Regions from separate parts of the Homo sapiens genome. Here regions 1 and 3 are each linked to region 2. Evidence: fine-mapped expression QTL. A gene starts in region 2. Each other region holds a variant in brackets. All regions are shown on one strand. Distances are between the middles of the regions. Region 1 overlaps ABTB2 (ankyrin repeat and BTB domain containing 2). Region 2 holds the start of ABTB2 (ankyrin repeat and BTB domain containing 2). Region 3 has its middle 13 kb from the start of CAT.

What was found. PIP is the estimated chance that this variant, and not a neighbour inherited with it, causes the effect. A credible set is the group of variants that fine-mapping cannot tell apart.
Region 1: its variant is the best candidate, but not a certain one, in a credible set for the expression of ABTB2 in whole blood (TOPMed, PIP 0.67).
Region 3: its variant is the best candidate, but not a certain one, in a credible set for the expression of ABTB2 in CD4 T cells (BLUEPRINT, PIP 0.55).

What each region holds. Positions count from the first base shown.
Region 1 is chr11:34,312,762-34,320,761 of GRCh38, forward strand. All of the region lies in intron 1 of ABTB2 (ankyrin repeat and BTB domain containing 2), which reads right to left. Among named protein-coding and RNA genes, the nearest start is that of ABTB2, 41 kb to the right of the region's middle. The variant A/G (reference allele first, on the strand shown) is at 3,256.
Region 2 is chr11:34,353,982-34,362,513 of GRCh38, forward strand. It overlaps ABTB2 (ankyrin repeat and BTB domain containing 2), which reads right to left and starts at 4,029. Exons shown (of 17, transcript NM_145804.3): 1 at 2,720-4,029. The coding sequence starts at 3,602. RefSeq lists an enhancer at 2,955-3,064 and a silencer at 4,015-4,214.
Region 3 is chr11:34,421,846-34,430,405 of GRCh38, forward strand. No RefSeq gene overlaps it. Among named protein-coding and RNA genes, the nearest start is that of CAT, 13 kb to the right of the region's middle. The variant T/G (reference allele first, on the strand shown) is at 4,011.

The sequences.
Region 1 (8,000 bases), 41 kb before region 2:
GCAATCATGGCTCACTGCAGCCTTGACCTCCTGGGCTCAGGCAAGCCTCTCACCTCAGCCTTCCGAAGTGCTGGGATTACAGGCGTGTGCCACTATGCTGGGCTACTATTCTCATTTTATAGGAGAAATCGCCTCAGAAGGGGTAACTTGTGTTAGGTTACAAAGCTAGCAAGTGGCAGAGCTGGGGCCTGAAACACAGGCCTAAATGATTCTAAAATCCATGTTCTTAGAAGAAAAAAAGAAAAAAGAAAGAATAGAAAAGACCCAATTTCTTAGCAAGTGAAACTACCTGCACTAAAATTAAATCTATATTCATGATTTAGAAATGGTCCAGGAACTGAAAGAGTTAACAATAGCTCACTGTCAGTGGAACAATTTATACAGGAGCCCATGTGCATTTTCTTGCTCAAGGGTTTCTGGAACCTTCCCTGGAATTAGGTCAGCAGCTGGAGAGCAGCTAGCAGTGGAAAGAGGAGTAACAGAATGACCAGACACCCCAACCGCTTCTGGTGCTGGCTCTGAAAGGCTGGCTCCCGGACAGACGGAGTGTCCCATTGGGCCGGCTCCCGAGCACCTCAGCTGTCTCCTGGGTAGGATGTGGTCTGACCACATTCTTTGAAGTGTATGGTAGCTCCTTACAAGCCACCTGGCTGAGAAGGCAAGCCAGCAACCCCAGCAGCAACCTGCACCACCATCAGGCCCCCCAGAGAGTGCCACCTCCTGCCCCTTGGGGCCCAGGCTCCCCGGAGAAGCAGAAGCTCTTTTGGCCTCATACACAGCCCAGTCATTGTAACCCAGACCATTGGACAAGGAGGATGTGCGGAGAATATCTCAAACGCCCTGAGAGATGGAGTTGTTACAATACACATTTCATGTAGACGGTGATATCAGCCATGCCACGAAAGTGGGAGAGATGCCACTGGGAGGGCGCACCTGCCTCAGTTTCTTCATCTGTAAAATAGAGGTTATGATAGGACTTTGCAACTCTACGGAGAAACAAGTGGATCTGTGTAAAGCACTCAGTGCCTGATGATGAACACACACTCACTATGTCCAACTATTATTACTAGTATTTCTTACCACCCTTATAATCATAGATTCTCTGTGTAAAAGCCCTCCCCACCGTCCTCAGCAAGGGACTTGCCCCAGCACTGCTGACGTTAAGGCCGAGTTCTCCTTCAAGGTGGGGCAGGTTGGAGGGCACAACCTGGCTCCCACACGGTCCTAGGGTGTGGGTGCTGCCTGTTATGTGGTGAATGGATAAACATGCTCTGGAAACCGAGGGGGCTGGAGGTCCCCAAATTTACAACAGCAAAGGAGAGGGGCTAATGCTGGTCACAGAGTGATGAGGGAAACTACTACCTGAGATACTCCCATGCAGGTGGCTTTAATTCCCTGATATCCAGCACCCCAAAACCCTCGAGGGTCATGTGGAAGGCTGGATAGATGGCCATGTCGCATGCCCAAGAGATCTTCCAGAGCAGCTGGTCTCACCAGACTTGAGGCTGTTCTTCTCGGATATGCTGAAACAGAGAAGAGGCTTCTGCAACCTGTTCACTAAGTGGGTCAGAGATTAGACTCTAACCTCGATGAGGGCGGGACCAGGTCTGTTTTTCTTACTAGGGTATCTGTACTCCAAGGCTGAGCCAGCGCTTGGCACATAGTCCATGTTCAATAGTATTTGTTGCATGAAGAAAGGAATGACTAGAAAAGTCAAATAGATGTGTGTGTTTTAAGGACCTACCATGTGACACACCTGTGCTAGGTGCCACAGGGGCATGATCTTTTCTTCTCTGCACACAGCTGCAAGGGAGAGGTGCTGATGGCTCTCTTTTGAGAGGAGGACACTGAGGCTAGGAGGTCAGTGTCCCCTCAGACCAAGGGCTCATGACTGGTGAGTGGCAGAGCTCAACCTCCCCCTGGTATCCGATGCTGGTGCCTGGATCCTCTTAGAAGGACTGGCTAGATAATTTTCAGGGTCCAGATCAAAATGAAAATGGGAGGCTCCTTGTTCAAAAATTAAGAATTTCAAGGCAGTGATAGCTGATCATTAAGCCAAGTGTGGAGCCCTTCTGAGTGGGGGGCCCTGTGTGACAGCACAGGCTGAGAGTCCATGAGGCTAACCCTGTTCTGAGAGGCTGAGGGTGATGCCGCACTTACAAGGTACAGTCAGCCCCTGTGATGGCCCTAATGGTTTCCATGTTGCCAAGCTCCAACCCAACACTCCAAATGACTTCCCCAGAAAGGCCGCTGCAGATTATCTTACCCTCTTTTCAAAAAACAAAGACTGGAAAAGTCCTCGCCAGAAGGGCTCAAAATTCCATATTAAAAAGAGGCCTGCACTCGCGCGAGCCTGCCTTCTGGACAGTGCATTTGCATGAGGCCACGTGAGCGCAGACACTGTCTGTGGAAACAAGCACGCCTGGCATTTGGAAACTAACTGGGACCAGACCCTTGGTCGAGGAGCCCCAAATTACCACAGAGCAAGTCTCCTGATTAAAACCAGGGCACTGAGGTTCCTGGGTTTCACTGAATAAACACGCCCAGTTCAGGCTGACTGGTTTCAGCTGATGGGGAGAAATGAGTCTATTTGAAATAACCTGTGTCCGGGGCCATCCTGACATGGGGCTCTGAGGGTCTGGGGCTTGGCTTTCCGAGGTTTAGAAGCCCATCTTTGGGAGGTTTTTGAGACAAAGGAAAGCTGTATTGGGCAGCTAAAAAGCTCTGGGGAATACAGGCCCCAATCATTCATGAGGAGGAATGGAAACAATTAGATTGATTCCAGGGATGTGTTCTGGGTTCCCATTCTCCTCTCCTGGCATCCAGTGCCTGTCTCCTCCATCCCTCCTCCCCTGCCCCAATCATAGCTCACCCTCGGCGCTGAGCAGACATGGGCAGGGAGAGAAGGGCACATTCTGGCTGGCCGTAGCCCGGAGGCTTTACTGTGGTAAGTATAGTTCTGAAATGCGCAGGTCTCCTTAAATTCAATTTCCCTTTTCCTATCAGAAATGACACGAGCAGCCACCCCCCAGGTTTCCAGCTGCCTTTCATGGCAGGCTCTCAGTGCTTCTGACACACAGAATTCCCAACACCTGTGCCAGCCAGGTGCCAGGCATCTACCCCTCACAGTGGAGAAACCTGAGGTGGCTTAGCATAACTTCTTCAAGGCGAGCTTATGCGGCAATTTCTAACCAGTCATCGTCAAACTGCTGATTAAATGTTTGCAGTTAAAATGTTAAGAACAAAAGAAAAAAT[A/G]TGTTGCTTTGTTTTATCCAACACTTGACAAGAACTAACTTTGGGATCAAGTGGCCAGGGTTGCTAGAACAAGGCTAAAAATGCCGATGTTCCTCTGCTTCACTCACACTGCAGCAAGGAAACTAACATTCCAGACACCCCGTCCCTGGGCAAGGAGGAGGGGAGACAGCCCTCACTGACAGCACCCAACGTGAGGCTGTGTTTTGTGGTCAGTCCCAGATTCTGGCCATCACAGTGGCACGGATCATACGGACACTGCAAAAGTCGCAAATGGCTCCCTTTCATCCTTTCTTTCAACCATCAGCAAACTGGGGCTCTCTGGATAGACAAGAACTCCTCACAGTAGGTTAGCACTCGCCTTTCAGCAATGATTTCATTTTAAACTCAACTTCAGATCCAGCCCAGCTCTGACTATAATCACAGTGGATGGGCTGAGCCTTCTGCTCCTCTGGGAGGTAAAAGATACTCACTGGATCATTTCCTGCACTCTGCTCTTTTGCTACCCCAAAACCCACAGGCTTGTCAGTGACCGAGTGGCAAACGTGTTTGTCGCAAATATTTCATCATCAACTACAAGGCTGAGCAGTGAAAATACCAAGGCCAAGTTGCTGTTGCCACTGGTGCTGCTGAAGCCCAGCTTTAAGATAATCCATGAGCCCCAGAATATGTTTTTAAAAAAAAATACAGTGTGTACTTGAATGTGATAAAAACCGCACCAATAACAACTGCACACACAGAGTTTCCAAGAATAAATAAAGCTTGGCTGAGCCTGTCCTAATTGACTACATTAAGGGTATACAAAGGACCTGTGTGTGACCAAGACAGTGGTAGCACAGAAGATATGTGGGAAGCTTGTGATACAGTTCTTACCCTGGACACACTAATGACCTCACTGGGGAAGCCCGGGAGGCACATGGGAAAGAACAGAAAGATCTGGACGAAACACTCCAGCCCCATCAGTGTCTGCTTCAAAACTACTGTGCCTGAGGTACTCAGGGCGGTAGAGGCACAAAGCCTGTTTGATTCTGCTCTGCTCATAGGCAACTGACTACAAAACCAACAGAACTAGAACAATTCCAACCAGAGACACATGCAAGAACCCTTGGTACTTCATGCCATAGGTTTTTGGATGTTTAACAAAGACATGACCTCTCTTGTGTAAGTTAAACATGTCACCTGTGCCATCTGTTTATATTCTAGATATGCCTGATGAGCCTGGCTTAGGCAATCTTGCCCTCTGATTCCACTGCCCTCTGTTCAGATCTCCATCACAATCATTAGTACAGTGTTTACAGGCTTTCTACCCTGGAGACTATAATCTTCCTGGGCAAGGGAGTTGGGGGTTTGTCTCCTCTCCCGCATCTTGTATTTTTCCCTTGATTGCGCTCTGCCCACAGACTGCTCAATAAGGGGGCACTGGCAATGAGAGTGCGAAAACAGTAAGAGAAACACTTGGTCAACGAAATTAAGAATGGGCCAGGCATGGTGTCTTACACCTATAATCCCAGCAGTCTGGGAGGCTGAAGCAGGAGGATCGCTTCAGTATAGGAGTTCAAGACCAGCCTAGGTAACATGACAAGACTCCATCTCCACAAAAAAATACAAAAATTAGTCAGGTGCCTGTAGTCCCAGCTACTTGAGAGGATGAGGTGGGAGGATCACTTGAGCCTGGGAGGCGGAGGTTGCAGTGCACCAAGATGTTGTCACCACATTCCAGCCCAGGCAACAGAGCAAAATCCTGTCTCAAAAAAAAAAAAAAAAAATTAATAACGGCTTTTTAAAAAAATTTCAGATTTGGGGATACATGTGCATGTTTGTTGCATGGGTATTACACACATAATGGTGGGGATTGGGCTTCTAGCATACCTATCATTCAAATATTGAACACTTTACCTAATATGTAATTTTTCAACCCTCACCCCCACTCCTCCCCTCCCCACGTCCCCCTCCCCTACCTCTTTTTTGAGACATAGCCTCGCTCTGTCACCCAGGCTGGATGAAGTACAGTGGCACAATCTTGGCTCACTGCAACCTCCAGCTCCTGGGTTCAAGTAATTCTCCTGCCTCAGCCTCCCAAGTAGCTGGGACTACACGCATGTGCCACCATGCCCAGCTAATTTTTTTGCATTTTTAGTAGAGACAAGCTTTCGCCACATTGGCCAGGCCAGTCTCAAACTCCTGACCTCAGGTGATCCATCTGCCTCAGACTCCCAAAGTGCTGGGATTTATAGGCATGAGTCACTGTGCCTGGCTCCACGTTTTTTGGTTCCTAGTGTCTATTTTTTCCATCTTTATGTCCATGCATACCCATTGTTTAGCTCCCATTTATGAGAACATGTGATATTTGATTTTCTGCTTCTGAGTTCAGTTAGGATAATGGCCTCCAGCTCCACCCATGTTACTGCAAAAGACATGATTCCAAGGAATGACTTATTTTAAAGGCAACCCAGAGACCATCTAGAAAAGTCATTCTCAACACTTTCCCAAGGAGGAAGCTTGGGGTCTGAGGGACCAAGGGACTGGTCTAAGGACACTCAGTTGGCTCGTGGCAGGGCCAGGATGGACCTGAGTCTCAGCTACTAAATACACAATGACGTCATAATAAAAATTCCAACTTAGATTTCTAGGCAGTTGAAAGAAGGTGGTTTTACTAGACTGTGAATCAGCCAGTAAGTACAGAGTCCAAGAGTCCAGAGGATTATTTTCCATTTAATGCCAGCTGGGGAGTCAGAACTCAATGTTCTGAGTTGGGAGGTGACCCATAATGTGATAAGGATCCAGCATGTTGCTCTCAGGTCATCCTTGGGCAGCTTAACCACTAGTCTAAGTAATCTATAAACCCCCCTGTTTGGAGAAACAAGATGTTTTGATGGAGAAATACCAAGAAGTGTCATCTCAGGGCTAAGGAAGGAAGCTTGCATGCCTTTCAAAGGAACTGCCCAGTTATTAGCCTGAGTCAGCTGTAATGTCAAAGGCACCTCTTTCCAGACTGAAATCCTGGAGCCAGAGACTGGCACTGTCTTAGCAAGGATGATGGCCAAGGCCCCTGGAGCTGGGGGATAACATCTTGTCAGCCCCACAGAGTAATAGGAACAGCGCTGGAGTAGACACCACCTCAGACTCTACAACAGATGACCCAGGGAAAGGCAATGAAATGAAATAAAATGCTTCCTGGATCTGACACACAAGAAGCCTTGGCTCAGGCCTTCTTCCCCACAACCCCACCGACTTCAGATGGTCATTATACAGCCAGGTGAAGAAGGTCACAGAGACCTCCCCCTTTGTGATAAAGTCAGAAGAGACCCCAAAGCTTACTGGGATCTCTTTTGGCTTTATCATAAAGGGGCAGGTCCCACCAGGACCAGCTGATGCCTGCACTGGCCAGTATCTAGGCAGCAGGGGAGGAGAAACCTAGGTGTGGGATAGCTCCAAGCCAAGGACAGGTTTGGGACAAAAAGGGAACAGCCAACATACACCAAGTATATGCAGTGCTGTCTGTCACCTCTGAAGTCATTACCAAGGCGGGCTGTGGAGTCAGCCAGACCTGAGCGTGAGCTTCCCACTGTCACTCTTCACACTGTGTGGTAAGTTATTTAACCCCTCCCAGCCTCTGTTTTATCAGCTGGAAAATGAGACACCAGGACTATTTTATTTTATATTTATTTTATTTTATATGAAGTCTCACTTTGGCACCCAGGCTAGAGTTCAGTGGCGTGATCTCTGCTCACTGCAACCTCTGCCTCCCAGGTTCAAGTGATTCTCCTGCCTCAGCCTCCCAAGTAGGTTGGACTACAGGCATGCACCACCACGCCCAGCTAATTTTTGTATTTTTAATAGAGATGGGTTTCACCATGTTGGCCAGGCTGGTCTCGAACTCCTGACCTTAGGTGATCCACCCACCTCGGCCTCCCAAAGGGCTAGGATTACAGGTGTGAGACACTGTGCCTGGCCTCGAACTCCTGACCTCAGGTGATCCACCCACCTTGGCCTTCCAAAGTCCTGGGATTACAGGCGTGACCACCGTGCCTGGCCACTTTTTAGAGAGCAGGTGTATTAAAATGAGCTAGTGAGTATAAAGCATTTAGTTCAGTACTTGAAACATACTAATCTATTAGCACACGTTACTTAATTTTATTTTTATTCTTAACACACAGCTCACTCCCTGAGATCTCTAACAGAGCTGCATATGATTTATGTCTCCCCAAAATATGTGCACAGATGACCCAAATAGAAATTTAATTCTGGCTTTGGAAGGCACTCAGGTTTTGAGAAAAGAGCAGATTTTATTTCTTAAGGATGTTACCCTTGGGCTAACATTTGAATGCTTTGTATTTCCTGGGGGAATTGAAGTCAGAAGGCAGGGTCCTAAAAATGTACTCAGTGGCCGAAGCAGTCTGGTTGATGATTAAAACCTTATCCCTGGATGATCTGAGCTGAAAAGGCCATTTCAGCTGTAGACCATTTCAATGCCTCCACAGGTGTACAGAGATTTATGATAAAAGTCACTTGGATGGATATACCTCACCACAGTAGAATTTCTTCTCCAAAGCAAAGTAGAACTTGAAAGCTCAAGGTGCCATTGGGTGGGCTGGCTGCCTCTTGAATTCTCTCACCTAACCTTCACGAAGGACTTACCCCACAGGCAGGCATATGGGTGTCGTGTGTCCACATTAGACGTCCGTGGAACTCTCTAGAACATACCAGACTAACTTTATCTCCCCTGGGCAATCCCAGCTCACTACTGA
Region 2 (8,532 bases):
TCCCTCTGAAGCCAGCTTTCAGACATAAGTAATTCATTGCCCCTCTACTAAACATTCATTTCACTTTGTCTAAAGGGACTTAATAAATCAGCCTGGTTATTGTTTAATGTGGCCACCCCCTGGTTTTCATGTATAAAAAATGAGCATCCAGTTGCTAAGTGGAAGTGAATGGTCACCTCGCCTGCAAGAGAGTTCCCTGGAGACCCGAGAAGGTACAGAGGGAGACACTTTGACTCTGAGCATCCGGGGAGCTTTGTTGTCTGCCACAGAGAATCCTGCTCTCTTGACTACCCAGGATTAAGGAGGATTGTTTGGAAAGGGGGGGCAAGGAGGAGGTTAAAACATGGGGTCGTGGCTGAGTGTGGTGGCTCACGCCTGTCGCCTGTAATCCCAACATTTTGAGAGGCCGAGGCAGGAGGACTGCTGGAGCCCAGGAGTTTGAAACCAGCCTGGGCAACATAGCAAAACCCTGTCTCTATTTAAAAAAACAAAAGGTGGTGGTGGAGCTGGGGGGTGGGGGTGGGGGGGTAGGTGGTGCCAAAAGACCAACTTATAAAGGAAATCCCAAGGAATGCTGACCCTAGATAAGAAATAGTTCTTTGGTTGGAAGCCCTTTAGCAGAAGACATCTGTTTTCTAGCAGCTTCTGGCCACTTCGCATCTTCAGGGTGTCCTGGGCAGGGAGTTGGTCTTCCTTATTTCAATTTGCAGTTAGAAAAGCTGGGAGAAGCTTCTCAATGTGCTGGGCACCTGTTCTGCATGAATATATGTTTTTGTTTTGTTTTGCATTTACAGTTCCACCCTTATTCTTGTTTGGCTTATAGGGTTAGGTCTTCAGTCTTTTCTCCTAGGAGCCTGCCTTTACTTCTTTGAGTTCAGTTTGGGCCTCCTCTCAGCCAAAAGTACAGAACTCTTTCCCTCAATTATGACCACTGGAGATGGAAATCCCCTGGCCCTCCACTTCCTGCCCTGGAGCTGCTGTTCCCAGTGTTGATGCCACAAACCTGGAGGGTGAGGCACAACAAGCAGCTGTGACATCATCAACTGAGATTCAGGACTGACCTTAGCTCTGACCTAAGAGGAAGAAAATTAAGCAGCAGATGCTCTTCAATTCCCAGCATCTCCTTTGGCAGTGCCAGAATTTAAAAACAAAACCAATAATGTCAAAGTAAGCCATGCTTGGTACAGAGTGTCTTCAAAATGGGCCTAACATGTCAACTGTTCTCGAAAACTGGGCTAATCAAAAAACAAAGCATAAGATCTGAGAGCTATAGTCCAGTAAGAAAAACAAACAAACAAACAACAACAACAAACCAGAAAAACAAAGCTGTTTCTTCTCCACCAGCATCTAGAACCTTAAAGGGGCCTACCTGGATTCAAACTGGATTCAAATTCCAGTTTTGCCATTTAACATCTATGTAATGTTGGGCAGATTATTTAACTGCTGGGTACCTTGGTTTCCTTATCTGTAAAATGGGCATCATACTATGCAGTAAGTACCTACCTAATAGGCTTGCTAGGAGTACTTGAGTTAAATACAAAGTGCTGAGAATAATGACGACACATTAAGGGTTATTTTGCATTTCAGCTATTATGATTATGTTAAACCATGTTTTGACTTCTTTTATCCCTTTCCAGTCCCCACCTGACCTCTTCCACTGCCTGCTTATTTGCCACTGAAAGCTGCCCCCCAAATGGCCTTCCAATCAGATCGTAAGGCTGTTTAACCATAATACCATTCTGAACAGTTTATGGTGCTGACTTCTCAAACTGAAGTCTTGTAGGTAGTTTGCAGTTGAATGCAATGTCACACCCCCTAACATTGTCAGGGAAAAGGTCATGTGCTTTGTTTCCATCCTTTGCACCAAATCCATGCTATCTTCAGGGAAGTGCAACCACCCAATGGTTCCTTTCCCAGACTTGACCCCATGCGGTTACCTATCTCTTCCCCTTGATGGGCCACCACTCTTTTCAGGAAAGAACATTTAATACAATGCAAGGTTTTAACCAATGGCTCACTTGGTTGGTGACAGCTTGGAAAAATCAGGTCTCAGGAGACAATCTGTGGTTACTTTTCTGGGAAGGGGAGTCGGGGTCCCCAGGTTTCATCATTCCTGGGCACATATAGGTAAGAGCGAACCACTACCCCTCCATCCCCCAAGAGAGCGCCTGACAGCATCCTTCAGCCCAGCAAAGCACAAGGCGCAGCACCAGATCTTGGGCTTCCCACTTCCCTCCGCCCATCTTACTTATCCAAGGTTCAGGTCTTTAAGTTGGGACCCTTTGGTTGCTGCTATTGAGCTGGGGAAAACTAGGGGGCAGAATCAGTCAATCTAACCAGCTGTTGGGGAAAGACAGCAGCTAGAGACCTAGTCAATCACGGTAAAGAGCCACGGGGCAGTAAGTTTCATTTCAAGAGAGGTTCAGGAATGGCTTGGTCAAGAGATTCAATCTCACCCAATCAATGAACAGCCCGCAGATAGTAACAATGCCACGCAGAACAGGATGGAGATCATTCACAAGTTTACCCTCCAAAAGTCAGACACCCTTAGAACAATCTCTGGCAAGTGCCATGTAATGAACCCTATCCTCAGACCAAACGTTTTCTCCCAAAGAACTGGCACAGCCACCAGCTTTGTCTCAGGAAATTCACTCCCCCAGTAGCCCAGGGCGGGATTTCTTGCCTACCCAGTCTGCCAGTCCGAGGCCCGCGCGCTTACCATTGGCGTTCTTGCCGCAGATGAGATGCTCATAGGGCTGCAAGACGCCCCAGAGCTCGGCGTCGTTGTTGATGACCATCTCCAGGGCCTCAGCAGACACCTCCCCGCCTCCGGCCCCTCCGCCATCAGGGCTGTGGCTGGCCATCACCCTGGCCCGGATCTCCTCCACCAGGTTCTCCATGCAGGCGGTGAGGGAGATGGCTGCGTACTCGTGGATGCGCACGGAGATTCGGGTGTCCACCATCCAGCGGAAAAAGCGACCCACTGAGAAGGTGAGGCCGCAGCGCGCGGACTTGCCCCGGCGCAGCCCGTCGCCGGCGCTCATGCTGTACAGGGACAGCGCCTTGACGGCTGCCAGCGCGCAGCTCTCGGCCAGCGCCCAGCTGTGCACCAGGCGCACGGCGCTCTGCACCTCAAAGCGGGTGCACTTGGCGTGCAGCACGCTCAGGCGCTGCGCCTCGCGGGCCACGCGGATCAGTGCCCTGCGGAGCAGCCCGGCCAGGCGCCTCACCGCCTCGGCGGAGAACTGGGGCAGCCGCCGGCCGCCAGCGCCTTTGCGGAGCACCCGGGCCACGTCTCCTTCGGTCCAGGGGAACTCCTCCAGCTCGGGGAGCCGCGGACAGCGCGAGAAGAGGTCGGCCACTTCGGGGTCCTCGGGCAGCACCGTGTTCACCGTGTCCCAGCTGTTGTGGCGGCTGTTCATGGAGCCGGAGTAGCACCACCAGGCCGCCCCGCGGTGCTGCTGCGCCGAAGAGTTGAGCGCCTGCGAGTTGGACTTGGAGGACGAGAGGCTGAGCGAGCGGCACGAGTCCCCGGCCCCATACCCGGAGTCCAAGGTCAAGTCCTCCAGCGTCTTCAGAGTCGAGCTGTACGTCCCGGCCATGGGGAGCCTGCCGAGGGCGGCGTCGCCGAGCGAGGGGCACTCACAACTCCATGCCCTCTTTCCCAAGTGGGCAGAAACAAGCTCTAGGCCCTCCGGGCCACCCTCCTTCCTCTCTGCGTCGCGGGGCTCGGCGGCCGCATTGCCTGCCCGGAGGCCGCGGGAAGGTGGCCGAGATCCGTGGCCAGCAGGAGCCCCACGCTCCCGGCGTCCCGACTCGCAGCTGCCACTGGAAAGAACCCCGTCGCTACCCCCCGGCACTCCCCCTTGTCCACCTCTAATTCCCACAAGCAGAGAGTCAGTCCTCCACAGAGAAGGAATCCCGGGAGAACAGGGCGGCGGCGGCAGAAGGAGGAGGCGGCGGCGCAGGGCGCAGGGCGCAGCGCGAGTCCGGGACCAGCCGGCGAGAAAGCGCTCTGCAAACTTCTGCGCTGCGCCGGCCGGCAGCACAGCTGGGTACCCGGCTGCGTCCGACATGCAAATAACCCCGGGCGGCTTACCAATCACCGGCCGCGATGGGCGGGGCTGCACCAATGATCTCCGAGGGGGCGGTCACTATGCAGATTTCACTCTGCCTCGGGTTAAACCCCGCGGCGAAGGAGGCGGGGCTGGAGGCCGAGGGTCGGGCACGCGGCTGGGATGGGGGTGGGGATGGGGGGGGATGGGGGGGATGGGGGGGTGGGGGAAGGGCGAGCCAGCCAACTGGGAGGTGGAGGTGGAGACCGGAAAGCAGCGGTCGAAACGATAGCTCCGGAGCTCACGATTTAAAGAAAAATGCAAAGGAAAAGCTACAGGGCGCTGCCACCTTCCCGCCACCCAGGCTTTGGGCGTTCGCTGCTCGCTTTCGAGCCCTCCGCAGCCAGGCGTCCTGGGGTTGGGGCCAGGAGAATGGGGAGGGCCCCATCCAGGCGCTCCACCTCTCCTCCACCTTCCGCCAGGCCCCTCCCGCAATCCGAGATGAAACGCTGGCTGTGTTTGGAGGGAGGAGGGAGTCCCTGCCTCTCTTTCCAAGTCCGTCTGGTTCCTTTGCGCTGCCGTCTAGGCTCCAATAAGGACAGAATTTCTTAACCTGGTATCTGATCAATGGACGGGCCCCAGGAAGCCTGTGAGTGCCTCCGCCCATTTGTGGTTTCACCTGCAGTTTTCTGAGTGCCACTATGGGGAAGGGGCACCAACTTTTGTCAGATTCTCAAGAGGATCCGTGACTTCCCTGTTACCTCTGTGTGACGATACCACTTGCTGTCAGGTGGGTCCTTTTTGTCCGAGATAGACAGTGTTCTTACAGGAAGAATGAGAAGAAGGTGGCAGAGCAGTCCCTCGCCCTGGGCTGAGCTCGGAACACCTAGCTGGATGCAGGTGTTCGCCTCCTAACGCGTGCCGGTGGGCGAGCCGTATGCCCCCGCGGGACCCAGTTCCTCCGGGGTACAATGAGTGGCTGACCTCCAGGCAGCGCCAGTGCCAACCTGCCTCCGGGCGGGTGTCCCAAACGGTCCGCCAGAGCGCTGTTGGTTCAGCAGTCCCATGCCCGGTGCAGGCATGTCCCGCCGCTGCCCTGTGGCTACTCACACGCACGTGCGCAAACGGACCTGTGCCCCCTCCAGTGGAACCGCAGGCTCAAGGCGGGGATTGTGCATTCGCTCTCCCCAAGTCAGCCTCCCCCACTCCTGAATGGCTCCTTTGTGTTGCATTTTACACAGTTCTGACCTTGGGCCGTGAGTTGGATATGAACTAGAAATGTCTGGTTTGTCTCTTTCCTTCTTAAATTAATGGCCTTTACCCCCGGTGAAACTGCTTTTTATTTGGCAGTTTCGCTTAATTTTGCCTTTCCGCGGGTCTTTATTTATGCAACATCGCCGCCCGATGGTTAGAATTGGGAACAGAGTCAAAGATGGAAGTACTGTAATACCAAAGACGCAAGTCAGCAGAGATCAAACTAACAAAGGAGAATGCAGTCACACTTTACAGACGTGAGATTAGAAATTAAAGTAGGCAATGAGGTCCAACTTGTCAAAAATACAAAAGTAAATTTTATGCAATTTAAAACTTTATTGGGGAAATATAATATTAAAGGCAATGTCGCCCTCTAATGGATATATTCAAAGGAAATGAATTTCAGAAAGGTTTCCCTGTCCCCCCTTTTCTTCGTTGTGCGCACCCATCAAACCTAAAGAGAATTACTTAACTGGAAATTTACAACGGGGAACTTACTGAATGAAAGGTTATTGGAGGAATCATCTGGAGTGGGAAAAAGAGCCTATGGGATTTATATTAATATATTCAAATTACTTGATGACTTAAAGTGTAGATAATCAAACATGCCTCCAACTGAATCTGAGAATCCTGTGAATGTTGACCTGCAACATGAAGATATATTATGCAAAATTCAGCCATGGGAAATGCTTCTGAACAAACAACTGAGTTTCTTTAATAAATAAGTTTCAAGGAAAGAAAGAGATGGAGAGAAGACCTACACATTTAAAGAGACTTGAAAGACATAATAACCAATTACAAGGTGTGGAACTTATGTGTATTTTGAATTTGTTTTAAAAAGCCAGTAAACATTTGACATTATGAAACCATTAGGAACACTGCCTCGATGTTTGCTCTTAAAGAATAACTGTTTTTTTTTTTTTGATGTGGTAATGGTAGTGTGGTTATATTTATCAAATGTTCTTATCTTTTAGAGACACATGCTGAAATAAGTGTTTTGTAGCCCTCAAGAGTTGGCTTCCTCAAGGAAAAAAGGAAGACAAATCCTCATGGAAAAATCTGGTAAAGGGACTAGGAAGTTAGGAAAGACTGTAGATAGATCTCTTGTCTTTCAAATTTTCCTCAGTCTTCTAGTCAGCCTGAGGACTGGCAGTACCAAGTAAACCCAGAATGTGTCTGTGTTTGTGTTTTGTGTGATATGGGAAAAAGAATAGGAGGAAGATAGATAGAGATGAATATATATATATATATATATATATATATATATATATATATATATCCAGCCATCTTAGAATGAACCAATTCTTTGATTTCAGTTCAACTTTTGGGAGTTGGCCAGTGTGGTGAAATACAAAACTTTGGGTCAAGGAAAGAAAGGACATGGTTTCTTATATATACGTGCATGTGTTCAGTTAAGCCAATCTGCTGGTAATGTGTTTGATTTTAAGAATGCAAATTATATTAAGAGAAAATGTCATCCCAACTCGGGCCTTACCCAAACATTATTTTTGAAGAAACATTGTTTTTGAAGAAAAACAGCTGTCATTAAGCTGGACAAGGAGAAAAGAACATAACAGAACACTGGCAAACATTGGAACAATTCCAAGTGGAGTTGACAATTAAGAAGCAGATCTCGGATTACCCACGCAAAAATCATGTAACAGAGGTAGCTTGAAGTAAACTTTAGAAACTTTACCTGGTGTGAGGTCTTCTATGTGCTTACACAATCAAAAACAATCTGGAAATTAGGAGATAAAATACCCTGGAATTTACCTTGAAAGTGAGGGTGTTATAATCCCAACTATTTACAGACAGAACTGTCTCATGAGAAAGGTAGATTATGGCCTTGACTTTGGAGAGTGGCCAAATTTTAATTTAGTTTGTGGATCACCTTCAGTGCATTTGGCAGATGTAGATCTTTAACTCCCACAGGTGGTTTTAATCAACTCTCCTAGTCAGGAGGGAATGTCTTTAAGCAGAGAATTAACATGTTCAGGCTTACAGAAATAGATTTGAAATTAATTGGAGAAAACTAAGTTTATAGAGCAGAGAGCATTACCTGCTTGTTTGTTGGTTGTCTTTCTGTCCTACAAGAATATAAGCTCCATGAGGGAAGGGATCTTCTCCATTGAGTTCACTTTTGTATCCCATTGCCTAGGTCAGTATGAGCGTAAAGTAGGAGCTCAATAAATATTGAATAAGTGAATGAATGAAACTAACAGGATGAATGGGGCAATGTAATGAACAGCTAGGTTTCTTTTTAAACTCTCAAGGAACCAGCAGGTGCTTAAGACTGTGTGTTAAGGGAAAAGGATTACTGACATCTGAACTGAGATTTTCCTGATACCTGCCTCCTCCATAGACTTTAGGAGAGTCATGTGCTCCCCATCCATATTATTATTATTTTTGAGACAGAGTCCCACTCTGTCATTCAGGCTGAAGTGCAGTGGTGCTATCTCGGCTCACTGAAACCTCCACCTCCCAGGTTCAAGAGATTCTCCTGCCTCAGCCTACCAAGTAGTGGGGACTACAGGCATGTGCCACCACTTCTGGCTAATTTTTGTGTTTTTAGTAGAGACGGGTTCACCATACTGGCCAGGCTGGTCTCAAACTTCTGACCTTAAGTGATCTGCCCGCCTCAGCCTCCCAAAGTGTGGGAATTACAGGCATGAGCCACTATGCCCAGCCCCCACCCACATCAGAAAGGGGTTCCTAACACCTTGGGGAGGTGGGCTTAGGAAGTGGGGAGTGTCTTTGAATCACCTAAAATTGCCTACAACATTTTTAATATGAGTACATATTTGCATATTCTGGAGAGAGGGTCAATGCCTCTAGGCAGGACTGTCTGATAGAACTTTCTGAGATAAAGAAAAAGGTTCCATATCTGTGCTATCAAATACAGAAGCCACTAACCACTTGTGGCTGCAACTTGAAATCTAGCTATTGTGACTGAAGAACTGAGTCTTAAATTTTAATTAATTAATTATTTTTGAGATGGGGTCTCACTGTCACTCAGGCTGTAGTGCAGTGGTATGATCTTGGCTTACTGCAACCTCTGCCTCCTTAACTCAAGTGGTCCTCCCACCTCAGCCTCCTGAGTAGCTGGGACCACAGGTGCACGCCACCACGCCCAGCTAATTCCTTGTATTTTTGATAGTGACAGGATTTTGCCATGTTGCCCAGGCTGGTCTCGAACTCCTGAGCTCAAGTGATCCTCCTGCCT
Region 3 (8,560 bases), 68 kb after region 2:
TCTGCACTCCTGCATTTGTTTCCTATACCTTTGTTTCTCTTTCTTCATGCATCTGCTTGGTGTTTTTTTTTTTTTTTCGAGATGAAGTCTCACTCTGTCACTCAGGCTGGAGTGCAGTGACGTGATCTCGGCTCACTGCAACCTCTGCCTCCCAAGTTCAAGTGATTCTCCTGCCTCAGCCTTCCGAGTAGCTGGGATTACAGGCACGTGCCACCATGCCCCGCTAATTTTTGTATTTTTAGTAGAGATGGGTTTTCACCATGTTGGCCATGTGGGTCTCGAACTCTTGACTTCAGGTAATCTGCCCACCTTGGCCTCCCAATGTGCTGGGATTACAGGCATTAGCCACGGTGCCGGGCCGTGCTTCTGCTGTTATCTACAGTGATCTCCAAGTTCTGAAGAACCCTTCTCATGTTTGCCTCCTTTTTCTTATCTCAAGGGCTGCTCTTCTGCTTTCTTTTGTGATTTCCCCTGTGCTTCCTTCCTGATTGCTAGTTTCTTTATTCAGCTCATGTGAATTTGCTTTTCACCTCTTTGGATTGCACTGCCAGTGTTTGGAAGTTCAGTTACTTTCCCCTCTTTGTTTTTGTTTTCTGGAATAGTCTACTTACAAGAATCACGGCTATTAGACCAGAGTGCCTCTGGGTTTTCTATTTCCTCTTTTTGGTGATGTTTGATAAAGATGCCATTTCAGATATCTTATTTTATGGGCTACTCTGTAAACAACTGTGGGAATTGGAGTTTTGGCAGGCTTTTAAGAGATGTCAACACTGCAATGAAGTGGAGGCAGCCGTTAAGAAAAATGCTTTCTTAAAAGCTTCTCTTTGGAGAATTTCTGCTGCTATCTACCGCAGCTAAGAAGGCCTAGAATAAACATCCATGGAATACTGTGGAATACATGGGATATCATGTAGCCATTAAAAACGATCATGGAGATTTTTATTTGTCAACATGGAAAGATGTTTATGACATATTAAGTGAGAAGCACAAGTTATATAGTATGTATATATGTAATATTTGTAAATAATATATATGATCTCATTTTATTTAAAGCCTTCTATATTTAAGTGCATAAACATTCATAGATAAAACTAGAAGAGTATTCATCAAATTGTGAAAAAATATTAACAATGGTTATCTTGGGATGGTAAAATTTGGGGGTGATTTTGGGAGGTTAAATTTATATGATTTTCTCTATTTTCTAAAGCACTTGAAGGGAATATATATGGCTTTATAAAAAACAGCATATTAGTATCATTTCAATTTTTTTAAAAAGAGGCTTTTGGTGAGATTAACAAATTTCTCTTTTAAATATTTCATTCTTTCTTTTGAAAAAAACTATCTGAAAGTATTATTTCTCCACCCTTTTAGCATAACACTTGAGCAGATTTTACAGTTAAAAATCATGAGTATTCTATGGATTGTATTGGTGCACACGTATAGACAATTGCAGTAAGTTTTAAGTCCAGTTTGCCTTCCTCAGGTTGTGTGGTGAAGGTCCTCCTCAGAGATAACGGAGCGGGAAAGATGGGCAGATTCAGCCTGGAGCCAACATCGCTGGGGTGACAGTGGGGTGGACACAGCTGTCACCGAGAAATGGCCTGAGGGAAGGCAGTGCAGCCTCCTAGGGTTGCGTGATTCCATTCAAGGAAATGGAGATGTGTGAATTTCCCCTGAGGGCTTGGCAGGGCACTCAAGGTGGAAGTAAAAGCTGCCCTAGCACTGTTTCATAGGACAGAAGTATGCTCCACTGTTCCCACCTCGACTTCAAAGACACAGTCAGTGGCGGTGGCAGTTGTGGCAACTATGGTGGTAAGGTGACCAACTATCCTGATTTGCCAGGGACTTTTCCCATTTTAACACTGAAAGTCCCACATCCCAGGAAACCCCTCTGTCCCAGGTAAACCAGGATGGTTGGTCTCCCTGTACTGTGGGCACATCAACATGATTGGGAGAGGTACCTCACTGGGGCGGTGAAAGCTTGTGGAGGTGATGGCAACTAAACGAGAGGAGGCAACAGTTGCCATGGTGACGATGGTGTGGTATTAGGAGAGATGCCAGGATGTGGTGGTGCCCCTGGCAGTAGAAACCTGGACTCCAAGTGAAGAGTCGAACCAACAGCTCTTGCAAGAATGGCTTTTCAGGCCAGACATGCCTGTAATCCTAGCACTTTGGGAGGCCAAGGTGGGTGGATCACCTGAAGTCAGGAGTTTGAGACCAGCCTGGCTAACATGGTGAAGCCCTGTCTCCACTAAAAATACAAAAATTAGCTGGGCATGGGGGTGGGTGCCTGTAATCCCAGCTACATGGGACGCTGAGGCATGAGAATCACTTGAATCCGGAGGTGGAGGTTGCAGTGAGCCAAGATGGTGTCACTGAACTTCAGCTTGGGTGACAGAGTAAGACACCATCTCAAAAAAAAAAAAAAAAAAAAAAAAGAATGGATTTTCAGTTTTCCCACTGCTGTTGTAACCAGGAAATCCAAAGCATTGGGATGGAGGTAGGGGCCAGTAGTGGTGGCTGGGACTCCAGGAATTACATCCAAAGAGGCCACATGTCTCTTAATGATCCCTGTGTACTCACATCCCTTCCATTGTCCTTGCCTCACACCTGGGATGGGGAAGCATTAGCTGGCACTTTCCAAACCCTACCCTTCTTTATACAGCTTTTAGGGGCTACAGTCACCTTTAGCTTTTTACACACATCATCCTTTATCTTTCTTGTTCACGTTCCTCTTTTTTAAAAAAGATATTTGATTAAGATCTTTAAGACCTGAAACCATAAAAATTCTAGAAGAAAACCTTGAAAAAACTCCTCTGGACATTGGTTAACATAAAAAATTTATGACTGACCCCAAAAGCAAATGCAACAAAAACGAAAAAGCTTCTGTACAGCAATAATAATAATAATAATCAGAGTAAACATACAATCCACAGAATGGGAGAGAATAGTTGCAAACCATGCATCCAACAAAGGATTTATATCCAGAATCGACAAGGAATTCAAACAAATCAGCAAGAAAAAAGCAAATAATCCCATCAAAAAGTGGGCAAAGAACATGAATAGACATTTCTCAAAAGAAGATATACAAATGGTCAACAAACATATTTTTAAAAAGTGCAACATTACTAATCATCGGGGAATGCAAATTAAAACCACAATGAGATATCACCTACCCCAGCCAAAATGGCTATTATTAAAAAGTCAAAAAACAACAGATGTTGGTAAGGATGTGGTGAAAAAGGAATTCTTATATGCTACTGGTGGGAATGTAAATTAATACAACCTCTACAGAAAAGAGTATGGAAGTTTCTTGAAAAACTAAAAGTAGATCTACTATTCAATCTGGCAATCCCACAACTGGCTATTTACTCAAAGGAAAAAAAAAGTCATTAAATCAAAAAGATACATGCATGTATATGTTTACTGCAGCACAATTCACAATTGCAAAGATACGGAATCAACCTAAATGCTCGTCAACTGATGAATGGATAAAGAAAATATGGTCTACATACACCATGGAATGCTACTCAGTCATAAAAAAGAACAAAAGAAGGTCTTCTGCAGGAAATTGGATGAAACTGGAGGCCATTATTCTAAGTGAAGTAACTCAAGAGTGGAAAACCAAATACCACATGTTTTCTCACTTGTAAGTGGGAGCTAAGCTATGTGTATGCAAGGACATACAGAGTGGTATAACGAACATTTGAGACTCAGAAGGGGGAGGGTGGAAGTGAAATGAGGGATGGCAAACTGCTTATTGGGTACAAAGAACACTACTTGGGTGATGGGTGCACTGAAAATTCAGACTTCACCACTATACAATTTATCCATGAAACCAAAAACCACTTGTACCCCTAAAGCTATTGAAAATATATATAAAATATTGAAAAAAAAATATATATAAAGGTCCTCAGTGCTTAAAAAAAATCAAGTGTTTTTTTAAAACTTGCCAGACAATGGAATATATTTTATAGAAAAAAGTCGATTGAGTAGTTTCACTGAGGGGG[T/G]ACAAATCAGCGGTTGTTAACGGCCACAAATTAAGGATTGAAAACTAGCACTGTGGATAGAGAGGAAAGAGTCCACAGGCCTGTATGTTGGTTAAAACAAGTCCTGTGGTTCATTGGTCAATAAACAGTTTTCAGTTAGATTCTTTGAGGGTCTGGCATACCTGAATCACTCAAAATTTATGGTCCTAATCAGCCACAGCAAGTTAGAGCCAGTTATGATGAAACACAATGTTCAGTTTTACTGTTTCCTGAGTAAGTATTGCTCTAAAAATACTTCCTTTTATGCTTTACAATCAGAGCTGAATTTGCCAGTTGAGCATGAAGGTTTCTTGTAGCCAGGCCTCCTTCCCTCCACCTCTGGATAAATGTGCTTCTACTGAAGCTGCTATTTTTTGTTTATTTGTTGTTTTTGAGACAGGGTCTCACTCTGTCACCCAGGCTGGAGTGTAGTGGCACAATCACAGCTCACGGCAGCCTCAACCTCCTAGGCTCAAGCAATCCTCCCACCTTAGCCTCTGGAGTAACTGGGACTACAGGCGTGTGCAATGATGCTCAGCTAATTTTTAATTTTTTTTTTTAGAGACAGGGTCTCACTATGTTGCCCAGGCTGGTCTCAAACTCCTGGGCTCAAGCGATCCTCTAGCTTCTGCCTCCCAAAGTGTTGGGATTACAGGAGTGAGCCACTGTGCCTGGCCTGAAGCTATTTTAATCCATGCCTTATCCACTATTCTTTGGATTTTGCAAATTCCCTCCTTTTATTCTGGACAAACAGTACTTTCCTCCGAATTTCAGAACTGAGATCTAGTCTTGATCAATATGAGTTTTCTCTAATATCTTTGTTTCTTCTTTTTTTAAATTGACGAAGGTAGACTCTCTAATCTCAATGTTTATCTCTTTAGTTTCCTTCTAGGCCTTCCTTCACAGCCAGGTCCCCACAGTGAAATCTGTCCTTAGCCCGACTGTGCCATCTGGGGCTCTCTCAGGGAGACACTGGTTTTGCACTCCAGGTCATTGTTTCTTTTAGGTGCATAATAGCATAACATGATAGCACATCTGCATTTAATTATGATTCCGTCTTCCTGGCTCCACGTTCACAAATTTCTAAGCCTTTGGAGAGAAGGAATATTTGCTACAAACATTGGCTGCAGTGATGATGTTGTCATCTGCTTTTGATTTCCTAGATGTAGCCATAAACAGATGCAAAGTTTGGCTAAATGGTTGGGAGTGGAGTGTTTGGACCATCTGACAGGGTGTAGATAGGACTCTCCACATGTCTGCAGTCATAATTTTGTCCATTTTTTTTAAGTTTTTTGTCTTTAAAAATATGCCTCATCACTTCTTTTTCTTCCTACACTGAACTGGCACAGAATAAATAGAACCTTGACTTTGGTTTCACAATGTATGTGGTGGATTTCATAGACTTTTGTGTTTCATAACACAAAAATGTTTGACCTTTGCAAATGATTTCTTTTCATCTTTAGGTCACAGAGCTTTCGTGTTGATATATTTGAGAGGGGCAGAGAGTAATAACACAGGGTAATATGATGTAAGGAGGACAAATGCCTTTTTCTGTTACAAACCACACACCTCCTCTGCCTCCAGCCAGTGCAATGCTTTTGACCATAAACTTCGTTGAATCTGTCCATGTAGCCTAGAGTCAGCCACTGCTGAATCATTCTCCCAACTACAATGCTCCCTGGAGCGTTCATTACAGCACTCAAGAGTTTTGATGACTGGCACTTTTGGCATCTTTTTTTTTTTTTTTTTTTTTTTTTTTTTTTTGTCGTGGGCTTCAGCTGCCCCAGCTCCTTTCCAACACCCTACTTTCCCTTGCTCAAGGGTTACTTTAGGGTTGATGATTACTGAGGACACTCAACAGAAGCTCAGATGTTTGAGGAATGCAAGTTGTTATAAGATAAGGTGCTTTCTTGCACTTAGTTAACTTCAGACATCAAGACTTGTGTTGCTAGGGTTCTTGCTAACAGAACAATACACAGAATAATCTGTAAACTTAATAGCGCAAGAGATGGCATGTTCCAAACATCACCAAAGGCAGCCATAAAATCAGGGCCTATTTTGAAAATTGTGACTGATATTTATTAAACTAATGTCAACCAATTATACTGTCATAAAAAAGTCAGAAACGATGTTCATTGTCAAGTAATTCCTTATCTCAGGATAATAAAAGGCAAGCTTAGGGTACATTTTGTCAGATGACTTCAGGGTTTTATAAGTATTAACACATTAAATCTCATAATGTATAAGGGTTAAGAAAATAGTTTGGTCATTTCTCTGTGTAGCCTGTCTGGTTAACTGTTTATATATTCCTACTTTTTAACTTACTTATTTATTTATTGAGACAGGGTCTTGCTGTCTTGCCCAGGTTGGAGTGCAGTGAGCTATCATCAGTGGACTGATCAACCTCTACCTCCTGGGCTCAACTGATCCTCCCACCTCAACCTCCTGAGTAGCTGGCACTATAGGTGTGAACCACCATGCCCAGCTAATTTTTAATTTTTTTTGTAAAGATAAGGTCTCACTATGTTGCCCAGGCTGGTCTCGAACTCCTGGACTCAAGAGATCCTCCTGCTCCAACCTTCCAGAGGTCTGGACTTACAGGTGTGAGTTGCCACCCCAAGCTGTATTTCTTTCTTTCTTTTTAAGACAGGAGTCTTGCTCTGTTACCCAAGCTGGAGTGCAGTGGCATGATCTTGGCTCACTGCAACCTCCGCCTCCCAGGTTCAAGAGATTCTCCTGCCTCAGCCTCCTGAGTAGCTGGGATTACAGGCATGCAACACCATGCCTGGCTAATATTTTGTATTTTCAGTAGAGGCAGGATTTTGCCATGTTGCCCAGGCTGGTCTCGAACTCCTGAGCTCAGGCAATCCACCTGCCTCGGCCTCCCAAAGTGCTAGGATTACAGGTGTGAGCCACCTTGCCTGGCCCTAACCCGTATTTCTATCTTTTAATCTATGTAACTTCTCTGTGTCTCAATTTGTTTCTGTAAAAGTCACTGGGTCCAAGGCAAAACGGTGATGTAGGTGAAGTTTGAATTTAATGTCTTCCACTTCTTCCTCATCTTCATGTGGGGGTCCTCAGGTTGGGGTGAAGAAGTAACAAAAGTGAGAGTGTCCAGTTCTTGCTCTCAGCTACTGAATAACTTGTAATGAAGGTATTACCTGAGATGCTCATGTATGACTCACCCTAGGAATATACGTATACTTATTTGTAAATTTTTACTTTGATATAATACTAAGTTGCAGAAAGTTACAAAAATAGTATAAGTAACTCCAGTTTACCCTTTACCCAGATTTTGCTCTATTTATTTTGTCAAGTGCTTGCTCTCTTTACTTACATGTGTATATGGATATATATGATGTATATTTTTTTCTGGCCCATTTGAGAGTAAGTTGCAGACATCATGCCTCTTTACCACTAAATACTTCAATGTGTATTTTCTAAGACACAAAAGAAATCTCTGATGTAAGAGATTACATAACTGCAGTCTAATGATCAAAACAAGGAAATTTAACATTGATACAATATTCTTATTCATATTAAGTTTATGGCCCATATTAAATTTCATAAATTGTCTCCATAATGTTTCTGAAGTCTTTTCCGTCTGTTCCAAGACCCAGTCCAGGAACACTCTTCATACTTAGTTGGCATGTCTCCTTAGTCTTTTTTAAACTGGAACAGTTCTTTAGTCCTTAACTTCCATGATCTTGATATTTTGAAAAGGCCAGTTGTAGACTGTTCCTCAGTTGGAGTTTGTCTCATGTTTCCTCATGATTAGATTCAGAGTATGCATTTTTGATAGGAATGCCACAGAAGCGATGTTGAGTCCTTCCTGGTGTACCATGTCAGAAGGTTCATAATGGGGGTAATATATCTATTTTTTTTTTTTTGAGACAGAGTTTCACTCTTGTTGCCCAGGCTGGAGTGCAATGGCATGATCTTGGCTCACTGAAACCTCCACCTCCCTGGTTCAAGAGATTCTCCTGCCTCAGCCTCCCGAGTAGCAGGGATTACAGGTGCATGTCACCATGCCTGGCTAATTTCGTACTTTTAGTAGAGATGAGGTTTCTCCATGTTGATCAGGCTGGTCTCGAACTCCTGACCTCAGGTGATCTGCCCACCTCAGCCTCCCAAAGTGCTGGGATTACAGGCATGAGCCACTGCACCCGGCAATATATCTATTTTTTAAAAGAGGACTCTTTTTGAGAATATGGGAAAGTACTCAAGTCCTAAAGGAAAATATATTTAAAAATGAAATGGGAGGGTATCTGTATTTGAGCCAGGCATCTGATCAAATTCTCCCTCAAATCCCTCAAGGCAAATTGTCACTTACTCTGGTTATTTGTAACATGGTTTATCCCGGTATTACCTCATCTATTAATTCACTTGCTTGTTCATTCATTTAGTCAAATATCCTGGGTGCCAGAAAACTGTTGCAGGTGCTAAGAATAAGCAGAAAATTCAAAACCAGAAACAAAACCCACCAATCCTCATGGACTTCTATTCTAGTAGGAGAAATACCCAATAAACAA